2 linked regions of the Homo sapiens genome follow. Each later gene encodes a partner of the first gene's protein in a complex. Each region holds a gene or a part of one and is shown on either strand. Other genes may lie near its edges.

Evidence for each region. Proteins that work in one complex are often made in the same cells at the same time.
Region 2: TOX4 (region 1) and WDR82 share a complex: the UniProt entries of both Homo sapiens proteins name them as parts of the PNUTS-PP1 phosphatase complex.

What each region holds. Positions count from the first base shown.
Region 1 is NC_000014.9:21,494,179-21,499,695, reverse strand, and holds the end of TOX4 (TOX high mobility group box family member 4), read right to left. Parts: intron 4,468-5,517; coding exon 4,304-4,467; intron 3,151-4,303; coding exon 3,090-3,150; 3' UTR 1,439-3,089; coding exon of another isoform or gene 1,327-1,438; 3' UTR 672-1,326; coding exon of another isoform or gene 559-671; 3' UTR 526-558; downstream 1-525. Other genes in the region: N(6)-adenosine-methyltransferase catalytic subunit METTL3, read left to right, coding at 96-204, 325-390, 559-671, 1,327-1,438. UniProt on the Homo sapiens protein: Transcription factor that modulates cell fate reprogramming from the somatic state to the pluripotent and neuronal fate. In liver, controls the expression of hormone-regulated gluconeogenic genes such as G6PC1 and PCK1.
Region 2 is NC_000003.12:52,268,646-52,275,686, forward strand, and holds part of WDR82 (WD repeat-containing protein 82), read right to left. Parts: intron 2,165-7,041; coding exon 2,067-2,164; intron 1-2,066. UniProt on the Homo sapiens protein: Regulatory component of the SET1/COMPASS complex implicated in the tethering of this complex to transcriptional start sites of active genes.

The DNA.
Region 1 (5,517 bases):
CCAGACTATTCTGTGATTCCTTGCTTCTATAAATGGTACTACCCCTAAACTGTAAAAGTTTGGCTAAAATTCTAGTTCTTTTTTATGCCCCACAGGTATGAACGGGTAGATGAAATTATTTGGGTGAAGACAAATCAACTGCAACGCATCATTCGGACAGGCCGTACAGGTCACTGGTTGAACCATGGGAAGGAACACTGCTTGGTGAGCAGCAGTGGGGCCCAATTCAATAGGTGGAGCACAAAGAAGAATCATTTGATTTCTTACTGAGAAAAAGTTCAAAGGTGTGGTTTCATAAGGTAATCTGTTATCTGTGGTGAGCAGGTTGGTGTCAAAGGAAATCCCCAAGGCTTCAACCAGGGTCTGGATTGTGATGTGATCGTAGCTGAGGTATGTGCTTCCCAGGCCTCCAAAGCTTCCACATTTTTGTTGGTATCAGTTATTCATGTTGGGTGTATTCTCATCCCAGATTTTTCTCATTTAGATCATAAACATAATAGAAAGGGCTAGAATTGCAATCTTGTGTAACTTAAAAAGCAGCTAGTTTTTATTTCCTAGGTTCGTTCCACCAGTCATAAACCAGATGAAATCTATGGCATGATTGAAAGACTATCTCCTGGCACTCGCAAGATTGAGTTATTTGGACGACCACACAATGTGCAACCCAACTGGTAAGGTGACCAGAGAACAGGCTAGTCCTCAAGGGGCTATTATTTATGATTAAGGACAGAACTTAGTAGAGCTTCACATTGTTTTACACTAGTCCATAAATGAGCTTCACAGGATTCATAAGCCACTTAAGCTTGTATTTAAACTGTTTTATGAGATTCTACAAATATTCATTAGAAACTCAACAGGTTCTAGGACCCAAAAGCACTGCTCCCTAGGGTTTCTACTCTCTTCACAACCCAAGGATCTTCCTCAGCCATTCTGTGATGTATTGAATCTGCCCCCTGGTGGTTACGAAGTTATCTATTTAATCTGTCAATAATTACATCTTTCACCCCTTAACAGAGCTTAAAACACATGCTGCTAGCATTTTGCTTATCCAAAGAATACTCCCTGGTAGCAACTCTGTGAAGCAGGCCTGGCTAAGCATTAGTTACTAACCCTCAGATAATACAGATCCAGTCTATTTTAACACCAGAATCTATGCCAATTCTGAACTAGTAATTCTACCATATACTATTCTAATGTTAAGCTCTTTTTAGAATTGGCATATTTGATATGATGATAGGCAGTCTTCATTTGGTATGCATTTTTTAACAATATTAAACCCTCTAATTCCAGGATTTCTGGTTTGCCCCTCCTTTTACACTGTTTCAGGATCACCCTTGGAAACCAACTGGATGGGATCCACCTACTAGACCCAGATGTGGTTGCACGGTTCAAGCAAAGGTACCCAGATGGTATCATCTCTAAACCTAAGAATTTATAGAAGCACTTCCTTACAGAGCTAAGAATCCATAGCCATGGCTCTGTAAGCTAAACCTGAAGAGTGATATTTGTACAATAGCTTTCTTCTTTATTTAAATAAACATTTGTATTGTAGTTGGGATTCTGAAGTCCATTCTGGCTCTGCTACTTAACAGTGTATAATCTTGTGCAACTCATCTCTCAGTATTATATGTGAAATGGGAGTATTACCTCATTGGGTTGCTGTGAAGGTTCAAACTAAATGAGTGCATGGGAAACATTAAAATGATCATTATAGGCTAGGCACAGTGGCTCACACCTGTAATCCGAGCACTTTGGGAAGCCGAGGTAGGAGGGTAACTGTAGCCCAGGAGTTCAAGACTAGACTGGGCAACATAGTGAGACCCCATCTCTACTGCTACCCTCCAAAACCATTAAAAAAACAGGAATGCAGGCTGGGTGCGGTGGCTCATGCCTGTAATCCCAGCACTTTGGGAGGTCAAGGCGGGCGGATCATGAGGTCAGGAGTTCGAGACCAGCCTGGCCAACATGGTGAAACCCTGTCTCTACTAAAAATACCACAAATTAGCTGGGCGTAGTGGCGGGCGCCTGTAATCCTAGCTACTCGGGAGGCTGATGCAGGAGAATCGCTTGAACCCGGGAGGCAGAGGTTTCAGTGAGCTGAGGTCGCACCACTGCACTCCAGCCTGGGTGACAGAGCGAGACTCTGTCTCAAAAAAAAAAAAAAAAAAAAAAAACAAAAAACACACAGAAAACAGGAATGCATAGGATAAAACTATGTACGTAGCTGGTTGAGGAGGAGGTTCTCTAGGACAGCATTCCTGTCTACAAACAGTAAAAATTTGAGTTTTATTTAAAGTTATCACCACTTGGACTATCATGCTGTAAACTTCTGCTTATTCTGTTACAACCAGGTGGCTTCTCTAGTCTGTTTTTCTTTAGATTATGTCTAAGAAATAATGATAGACCTATGGTCTTTTAAAGATAGTTCATCAAACACAAGTGAATACAACTTTAGACTTTGGTGGAACCTCTTACTAATGATGTAGAGTTCCGCCTCTTAGATTCATGAACTGTGATAACTCAGATAAGGATGGTAACTGCAGAAATAATATATATAAAGAGAAATCACTCCTGGGTGATGTCATTTTCCATGTAGCCCAGTATGCCCATGTTGAAAAGTTTTGTTTTCAAAGCAGTGTACTGATGTGATAATGGGGAATAACATTTTTTTATGAGGGAACCCTTTAAAATGGATGCACACAGTGGCATTTTCTCCTAGGCTCAAAGCTGAGTACACTCCCGTAATTTTAATAATATTTTAGGCAAGTCCTATGACAATTATACCAACAAGTTTCTTCAACCCCACCACCACCCCACCATCTCTATGCTTTGCTTGCCCAGACTCCCTTCACCCTTTCCTCTGCTATTACCGCTTATGGTTGAAAGTAAAAAGCATCTCCAGATTACAGCAAATTCAGTGGCCCTGCTCCATAGCCTGGCCTCTGCTGAAGGAAGAAAAGGGGTGAAACATGAACAGCCATCATGGGTTGTGATGAGGCACTACCAGAAGCCCAGCTTGTGTTTCAAAAACAGGCTCTTGGACACTTTCCCAGCAGATAACTCTTCACTGGCTTGGAGAACAGGAAGGACTATTTCACAAACACCACTGTGTTTGAATTTCTAGAGGCTACCCAGGCCAAGAATACATCCCTAAGAGAGAAAAAGACATACACAAACAGAATTATACACAAACTGAAATAGAATTACAGCCTAGATACATTTTTTTTTTTGAGACGGACCTCATGGGTTCACGCCATTCTCCTGCCTTAGCCTCCCGAGTAGCTGGGACTACAGGTGCCCACCACCATGCCCGGCCAATTTTTTGTATTTTTAGTGGGGACAGGGTTTCACTGTGTTAGCCAGGATGGTCTTGATCTCCTGACCCCGTGAATCGCCCGCTTTGGCCTCCCAAAGTGCTGGGATTACAAGCGTGAGCCACCGCGCCCGGCCGCTACATTCTTTTTATCTTTTTTTTTTTTTTTTTGAGATGGAGTCTCGCTGTTGCCCAGGCTGGAGTGCAGTGGCGTGATCTTCTTGGCTCACTGCAACCTCCACCTCCCAGGTTCAAGAGATTCTCCTGCTTCAGCCTCCTGAGTAGCCAGGACTACAGGTGCCTGCCACCATGCCCGGCTAATTTTTGTATTTTTAGTAGAGATGGGGTTTCACTGTATGGCCCAGCTGGATTTTTTATCTGTCTTAAACAAATAGGTTCCCAGATAATTTCCTACAGCATTATGGTGAGATAGTATCACCTTGAAAATATAAGAACAGTGGGCTTAAAAGTCAGAAGTAGAGGCAATGCTAATTTACTGCAGAGTTTTTGAAATAGGAAATAGAAATGCCTTGTCCTACAGCTATAGGAAATTCCCAGGAAAATTTGGGGAGAGGGGTAAAATATTCCAACCATCTCCCCATTTCCTTCACAAATTGCAAATTATTATGTGTTACTTTCCACTTACCATTTCTCCCCAAATTCTAGTTCCCTAAGTAGTCTGATTTGCACCAAGAATTGAAAAGCTAATATTTGCAAACACTAACAGCTTAATGTATTATATTTTTAAAGAGCATACATAAGAGAGGTATGTGGTAACTGAAAAATGTGAACTGCTGATTACATCATCTTTGGCTTATGTGGCAAATGTAAGCTCTTAAGCAGGGGAGCTTTTCTAGTAGACCAGATACAGCAACCTACTCTACCTAAGGTAAGGTGACACTGAGATGCTGATTTTATGCTCAAGATTCCTATGTTTCCCAGTAGAATTGACCAGTAGCTGAATTATAAAAGGGAGAACTGTAAGCTCACCTGCAGTGCTTCACCACACACTCATTGCTGCAGTATTCATTGTCCCAGTCCTTACTCACAATGGGAGGGTTCTCACAACCAGACCTCACACATCGAGGCTGGGGTGAGAGTGCCACAGGAGACCCACTCACCAATTCAACATCCATCTGAGAAGGAGACTCAACCTGTGAGAAGAAGAAGAGTACCAAGGTGGATTAGATTGCTCCCTGCCTAGCTAGCTAGTTAGCTAAATTATCTGTAGAAACCAATGAAGCAACAGGTATTAGAATTCCTCACACTGGGGGGCAAAACTGCAGAAGAAGGTGAGTTCTTGGTCTCCCCTCTATAGTCCAGCTTCAGAACTTTGCCAAGCAGAATGGTGGAAGATTCTTCCCATCAGGAGAAAGGTGGCCATGTGCTAATGCTTTTTTTTCCCTGTTAAGCCTGGCTAGTCAAGCAGTGGGAATAGAGAGGTAGTGTTTTTTGTTTTTTTTTGAGACGGAGTCTTGCTCTGTTGCCCAGGCTGGAGTGCTGTGGCACAATCTCAGCTCACTGCAACCTCTGCCTCCCGGGTTCAAGCGATTCTCCTGCCTCAGCCTCCCAAGTAGCTGGGATTACAGGCGCCCATCACCGTGCCCAGCTAATTTTTTTTTTTTTTTTTTTTGAGACGGAGTCTCTCTCTGTCTCCCAGGCTAGAGTGCAGTGGTGCGATTTCAGCTCACTGCAAGCTCTGCCTCCTGGGTTCCCGCCATTCTCCTGCCTCAGCCTCCAGAGTAGCTGGGACTACAGGCGCCTGCCACCATGCCCGGCTAATTTTTTTTGTATTTTTTAGTAGAGACGGGTTTTCACCGTGTTAGCCAGGATGGTCTCGATCTCCTGACCTCGTGATCCGCCCACCTCGGCCTCCCAAAGTGCTGGGATTACAGGCGTGAGCCACCGCTTCCAGCCCCAGCTAATTTTTTGTATTGTTAGTAGAAACAGGGTTTCACCATGTTGGCCAGGCTGGTCCTGAACTCCTGACCTCAGGTGATCCACCTGCCTTGGCCTCCCAAAGTGCTGGGATTACAGGCGTGAGCCACCACACCTGGCCATATTTATGTCTGTTTTAAAAAATAACGGTATGAACCAATTAAATTTTTCTGCCTATACCCCCTGCCCCACACACATTTAAAACATCAAGCTAAGGAACTTAAGACCTAGGAGAAATGAAAAGCTTTGCATGTCCAAAGTTTAGG
Region 2 (7,041 bases), on another chromosome or scaffold:
ACCACTTCTGAAATACAGGCATGAAAAGTAGAAATGACATACTTAACTAAAAATCAATACAGGCAGAAGAGTCTCATTAAAAAAAAAAAAAAATGGAAAAAAGGACTTCCGCCCATTCTGCTCTGAGATAGGCACAGCCAAAATAGCAGTATAAGCTATCCTTGTGGAATGACATTAGAAAAATCTTTTTTGTTTTTTTGAGATGGAGCCTCGCTCTGTCACCCAGGTTGGAGTGCAGTGGTGTGATCACCCTAGACCTCCAGGGCTCAAGCAATCCTCCCACCTCAGCCTTACAAGTGGCTGGGACTACAGGCGCGTCCCATCACACCTGGCTAATTTTTGTATTTTTTGTAGAGACGGGGTTTTCCCAAGTTGCCCAGGCTAATCTCGAACTTCTGTGCTCAAGTGATCCACTCTCCTAGGCCTCCCTAAGTGCTGGGATTACAGGCATGAGCCACTATGTAGCCACCGGCCTAAAAAAAACCTTACTGCAAAATGTGAGATGATCATCAATAATCCACTGAAATAAGTTTAAAAACAGAATCCTGGCCGGGCGTGGTGGTTCACACCTGTAATCCCAGCACTTTGGGAGGATGAGGCAGGCAGATCACTTGAGGTCAGGAGTTCGAGACCAGCCTGACTAACATGGTGAAGTCCCAACTCTACTAAAAATACAAAAATTAGCCGGGCGTGTTGGTGGGCACCTGTAATACCAGCTACTTGGGAGGCTGAGGCAAGAGCATCGCTTGAACCCAGGAGGCTGAGATTGCAGTGAGCCGAGATTGCACCATTGCACTCCAGCCTGGGCAACAAGAGCAGGACTCTGTCTCAAAAGAATAAAGAATAGGCCGGGCACGGTGGCTTACAAGGTCAGGAGATCAAGACCCATCCTGGCTAACATGGTGAAACCCTGTCTCTACTAAAAATACAAAAAATTAGCCAGGCATGGTGGCATGCACCTGTAGTCCCAGCTACCTGGGAGGCTGAGGCAGGAGAATTACTTGAACCCGGGAGGCGGAGGTTGCAGCGAGCTGAGATCGCGCCACTGCACTCCAGCCTAGGCAACAGAGTGAGACTCTGTCTCAAAAAATAAAAACAGACAAACAAAAGAAAATAAACAAAATTAAAAAATTAAAGAATTCTAACATGAAAATAAGTGTTACAGTTCAGTTACCAAGACAATCTGTTAACTTAGGATTTATCTCGAGACATGCAGGCAAAAACAGAGATTGTTTATTATAGAAAGAAACTCACAAGTTCAATTTCTAAAAGTAACTCTACTCTTTAGATCAAAAAACGTTCCTGGAATCAGAAGTGACTAAGGTTGGGAAAACACCAAAACTGTTCTAACTTCCCTTAAACTATCATAGTTCAAGCATTTGTGAAACTTTTCTCAAATCTCTATCATTTTAAAAGAAAAAGTCCTGTTGTTTATCACTTGCTGTGTATCAAGTGTTCTTTCCTTTTATTTGTTCTAAAAGTGTTCTTTTTGGAGATGGAGTCTCACTCTGTCGCCCAGGCTGGAGTGCAATGGCGTGATCTTGGCTCACCACAACCTCTGCCTCCCGGGTTCAAGAGATTCTCCTGCCTCAGCCTCCTGTGTAGCTGGGATTATAGGCGTGCACCACTGTGCCCAGCTAACTTCTGTATTTTTAGTAGAGACAAGGTTTCACCATATCGGCCAGGCTGGTCTTGAACTCCTGACCTCAGTGATCCGCCCACCTCAGCCTCCCAAAGGTTGGGATTATAGGCGCGAGCCCCTACGCCCGGCTTTAAAAGCGTTCTTTTAAGTGTCAGGAAGTACAAATCATAAACACAATTAGTTGTTTCCTTTTTCCACTCCCCACTCTGAATTGAAGACTTTTCATACTCAGTCCCAAGTCCTTCAAAAGTGCCAATGGCTTGCTTCCAGCATTCCTTCAGTCAAAACAATGCAATTAACATTACTAACATTATATGAAAATACTTAAACTAAAGTAGTCACAAAGCAGAAGTAGTCACAAAGATTCCATGAACTATTTAACAAAGGAAACCATGACCTTAACTTCCTAAAAAGGCTTGCTTACCGTCTATTTTGTTAGAGCTGTAAACAACTGTGTTTGCTGCATGAGTGTATCTGATGAGGTCCACACCATATTTCTTACTGTACAGGGTTCTCTTTGGTCTGATAAGAAAATAGAGACAGAAAATCATGAACATTCTCCATCATCAAAATCTGGGATCTCCACATAAAGAGAAGCACTTGAATGATGTGGCAAAGGTGAGGATTTTTGGTAAGTTCTAACACTGGAAAGAAACAACTTCTTCCAAAAGGGAAAAAACAACGCTCAAGCAACAGCCATCTGAAGAAGCTTTCCACCTTAGAACACCTAGTGGCAAGGTTAGGTGGGAAGTAAAAGTAAATCTGGGGATTCAATTCAGTCTTTACTACAATGTTCAAAAGCTTTGAGAAAAAATACAATCATGTGCCATGTGATGACATTTTTATCAACAACAGACAGCACATAGGGTAATGGTCTCATAAGATTATAATAGAGCTGCCCTCTACAACCGATGTTTCATTTTTTAAATCCCTTAAACTGTTTTACGGCACCTTTTCTATGTTTAGATACACAAACACTTAACGCTATATTATAATTGCCTACAGTATTCAGTACTGTAAAATGCTGTACAGGTTTGTAGCCTAGGAGCAATGGGCCATACCAAACAGCCTAGGTGTGTGCAGATTATACCGTCAGGTTTGTGTAAGTACACTCTATGATGCTGCTGCAACAAAAACTCACGTGATGATCCCCATCTAAGTGATGCATGGCTGTACATCTACTTGGGAAGAAAGGCACACAAAACAAGTCTTAACTTACAACAAAGAGGGATATGAGAATATGTCAAACCCAAGAGGCCAAACTTTTCTTCTCAAGACATCCATTTAGAAAGAAGCTCTGTGTTTTTTTTTTTCAAGACGGCAGTGATTCCTCAAAACTGAAACCAGATGCAAAACTGCTTGCCTTTGCTAATGTAACCTGCTCTTGCAGAAGACATCCATCCTTCCTATCCTACAGGTCAAAAGCGCTTGCTGAGCCTTTTAGAAGGCAAGCCTAACTTTCTCTAGCAAAACCAGTTAAATAGTTCCTTTGCTTTTACTTTAAAGCAAAATCACACATTTCTGGCCACAAGGTGGTGGCTCACATCAGTCATCACAGCACTTTGGGAGGCCGAGCCAGGCAAATCACCTGTAGTCAGAAGTTCGAGAGCAGCCCAACATGGTGAAACCCCGTCTCTACTAAAAATACAAAAATTAGCCGGGTGTGGTGGCACACACTTGTAATTCCAGCTACTCAAGAGGCTGAGGCAGGAGAATTCCTTGAACCCAGGAGGCAGAGGTTGCAGTAAGCCAAGATCGTGCCACTGCAATACAGCCTCTGCGACAGAGTGAGACTCCACCTCAATAACAGACAAAAAATCACACATTTCCAAGCTAGAGGTTATCAATCTCCATTTGTTGAAGTTCCTTAAATGTCTCCCTTTACAGAACCTTGAAGAGCAAGGCTAAAACTGGTCTCAACAGAACCTTTAACCAAAAACTCTAACACATACTGGTTAAGTTAGAAAAATTTTAGGCTGGGCGTGGTGGCTCACGCCTGTAATCTCAGCACTTTGGGAGGCCGAGGAGGGTGGATTGCCTGAGGTCAGGAGTTTGAGACCAGCCTGGCCAACATGGCGAAACGCTATCTCTACTAAAGATACAAAAATTAGCTGGGTGTGGTGGCCCACGCCTGTAGTCCCAGCTACTCAGGAGGCTGAGGCACGAGAATCACTTAAGCCTGGGAGGCAGAGATTGTAGTGAGCTGAGATCGCGCCACTGCACTCTAGCCTGGGCAACAGAGCAAGACTCCATCTCAAAAAAAAAAAAAAGAAAAATAAAAATTTGAGACTTAAATATCTATGTAAATCTAGATTCAAATGCTAAAATAACTCTCCAATACGATCAACTGAAAAAACAGGAAAGCCTTTAACATAATGTCCTACATTTAGTTCTTTAGAAAGATTTCATAAATCCTGTACTAATGTTAACCAAGAGTTCCAATTTATGAAAAGGAAAGCTAATCCTCTCAATGTAAAATCCTCTCAGAATCTAGGTACTAAACAATCACGACTCAAGCAGTCTTTAAGAAGTCAGTTATTTGCACTTTCAATTTTTGTTAAAGTGAGGCCAAGGGCTTCCCTACATGAAACCCATTTCCAACAGACTTCTCACTACAAATACACTGGATTTTCCACATTCTTACCTTTACTGAAATAACACTTCACTCCTAAAAAGATCAGCAAAGGCTACTTTGCCAAGTGCACTGTCTGGGGTTCTGATGTGGGGTTACTGTGTGGTAACCAGTGAGGCAGTCTCAGTGTGTGGCTGTATACTTACTCTCTACATAGTTGACTCTGCTACCAGTGGAAGAAGTTTATATCAGTTATTTCATCCCATCTACAATAGCAAAGACAGAAACTGGCCGGGCGCAGTGGCTCACGCCTGTAATCTCAGGCTTTGGGAAGCCAAGGTGGGTGGATCACCTGAGGTCAGGAGTCTGAGACCAGCCTGGCTAACAGGGTGAAATCCCATCTCTACTAAAAATTAAAAAAATTAGCCAGGTGTGGTGGTGGGCACCTGTAATCCCAGTTACTTGGGAGGCTGAGGTAGGAGAATCACTGGAACCCGGGACATGGAGGTTGCATTGAGCCAAGATCGCGCCATTGTACTCCGACCTGGGCAACAAGAGCGAAACTCCGTCTTAAAAAAAAAAAAAGACAGAACATGAAGAGCCAACTCTAACTTGACAAGTTGAAAGAGAATAGTGTAAGGAAAATTTCTGGTTCCACTTAGATCTGGTCTATTTGTCTCAAATTTATCAAAAACACTAACCTGAGATTTTTTTTCCTGATAACAGAAATCTACTGCCTCATTTCATTTCCCAATTTGATTTTTATTATTTTTATGTTTTTGAGACATTCTCGCTCTGTTACCCTGGCTGGAGTGCAGAGGCACGATCTCGGCTCACTGCAACCTCTGCGTCCCCGGTTCAAGCAATTCTCCCTGCCTCAGCCTCCTGAGTAGCTGGGATTACAGGCCCCTGCCACCAGGCTCAGCTAATTTTTGTATTTTTCTGTATAGACAAGGTTTCACCACATTGTCCAGGCTGGTTTTGAACTCCTGACCCAGGCGATCCACCCGCCTCGGCCTCCCAAAGTGCTGGGATTACAAGTGTGAGCCACCACACCTGGACTCATTTCCTAACTTGAAAGCAAGATTATACTGTACTGCATCCATGTGGGTCTTACAAAATACATGCACAACATTTTTCAAATATTTTGGTAAGCTTCCTTCCTCAAACTATAATTCTGGTGATCAAGCATCAACAAGGAAAATAATATTAACCTTTCACTTTGAGTAATTTGCTTCACCTACCACAAACAATATCCTTTATACTCTTCCAAATTGAAATATCACTCAATGGGCGAACTCCATTGTAAAGAAAATTTAAATGACCAGTAAACTGGAAAATACTAAGCACACAAAATCTTGCTTTAGCCATTTTCAAACTCCCAAATTCTAACACTAGGGTCATCTAATAAAGATACTATGCCTTCGGCCGGTCACAGTAGCTAACACCTGTAATCCCAGCACTTTGGGAGGCCTAGGTGAGAGGATCGCTTGAGTTCAGGAGTTTGAGACCAGCCTGGGCAACCTGGTGAGAACTTGTCTCCACTAAAAATAAAAATAGCCAAGTAAGTTGGCGAGTGCTTGTAGGCCCAACTACTTTGGAGATTGAGGTGGGAAGATCACTTGAGCCCAGAAGATGAAGGCTTTAGTGAACTATAAGCATGCTATTGCACTCCAGCCTGAGCAACAGGGGAAGACCTTTGTCTTAACAACAAACAAACAAAAAAACAAAACAAAACAAAACAAAAAAACAGGGCCGGGTGCGGAGGCTCACATATGTAATCCCAGCACTCTGGGAGGCCGAGGAGACCGAGGTGGGCAGATCACTTGAGGTAAGATGTTGAGACCAACATGGCCAACATTGTGAAACCCCATTTCTACTAAAAATACAAAAATTAGCAGGCACACTGATGGGTGCCTGTAATCCCAGCTACTCGGGAGGCTGAGGCACGAGAATCGCTTGAATCCAGCAGCGAGGTTGCAGCAGTGAGCCAAGATTACGCCACTGCACTCCAGCCTAGGAAAGAGTGAGGCAGTCTCAAAAACAAAACAAAACAAAACAAACAAACAAACAAAAAGAAAGGCCGGGCGCAGTGGCTCATGCCTGCAATCCCAGCACTTTGGGAGGCCGAGGCGGCGGATCACCTGAGGTCGGGAATTCGAGACCAGCCTGACCAACATGGAGAAATCCCGCATCTACTAAAAATACAAAATTAGCCAGGTGTGGTGGCGCATGCCTGTAATCCCAGCTACTCAGGAGGCTGAGGCAGGAGAATCGCTTGAACTCGGGAGGCGGAGGTTGCAGTGAGCCGAGATGGAGCCACTGCACTCCAGCCTGGGCAACAAGAGCGAAAGTCCCTATCAAAAAAATAAATAAATAAAAGATACAATACCATGCCTTCCCAAGGAAATACTTCTTTTCTTCTGAGGTCGGTTTGACCTATACTAGTGACAAAATTTTTCATCATATTATTGCCTAGAATGGAAACTAAAGAGGTTGTCTAATACCCAAAGAAGTAATCTGACCAATGTCACATACCTAGTCACAGGCCAAACTAGTACCCAGTTCCCTCCTAACTACCAGGCCACTCCTTCACCACAGATAATGAAACAAGGTTACAATTAATTGATCAGAGAAAACTCAAGAGCATGCCCTGTAGTATTGTATCAGTACTAAATTTCCTAATTTGGATAACTGTGCTCTGGTTACATAAGAATGTCTTTGTGCTTAGAAAATCCACGTTGAGCCGGGCGCAGTGGCTCATGCCTGGAATCCCAGCACTTTGGGAGGCTGAGGCGGGTAGATCACGAGATCAGGAGTTCAAGAC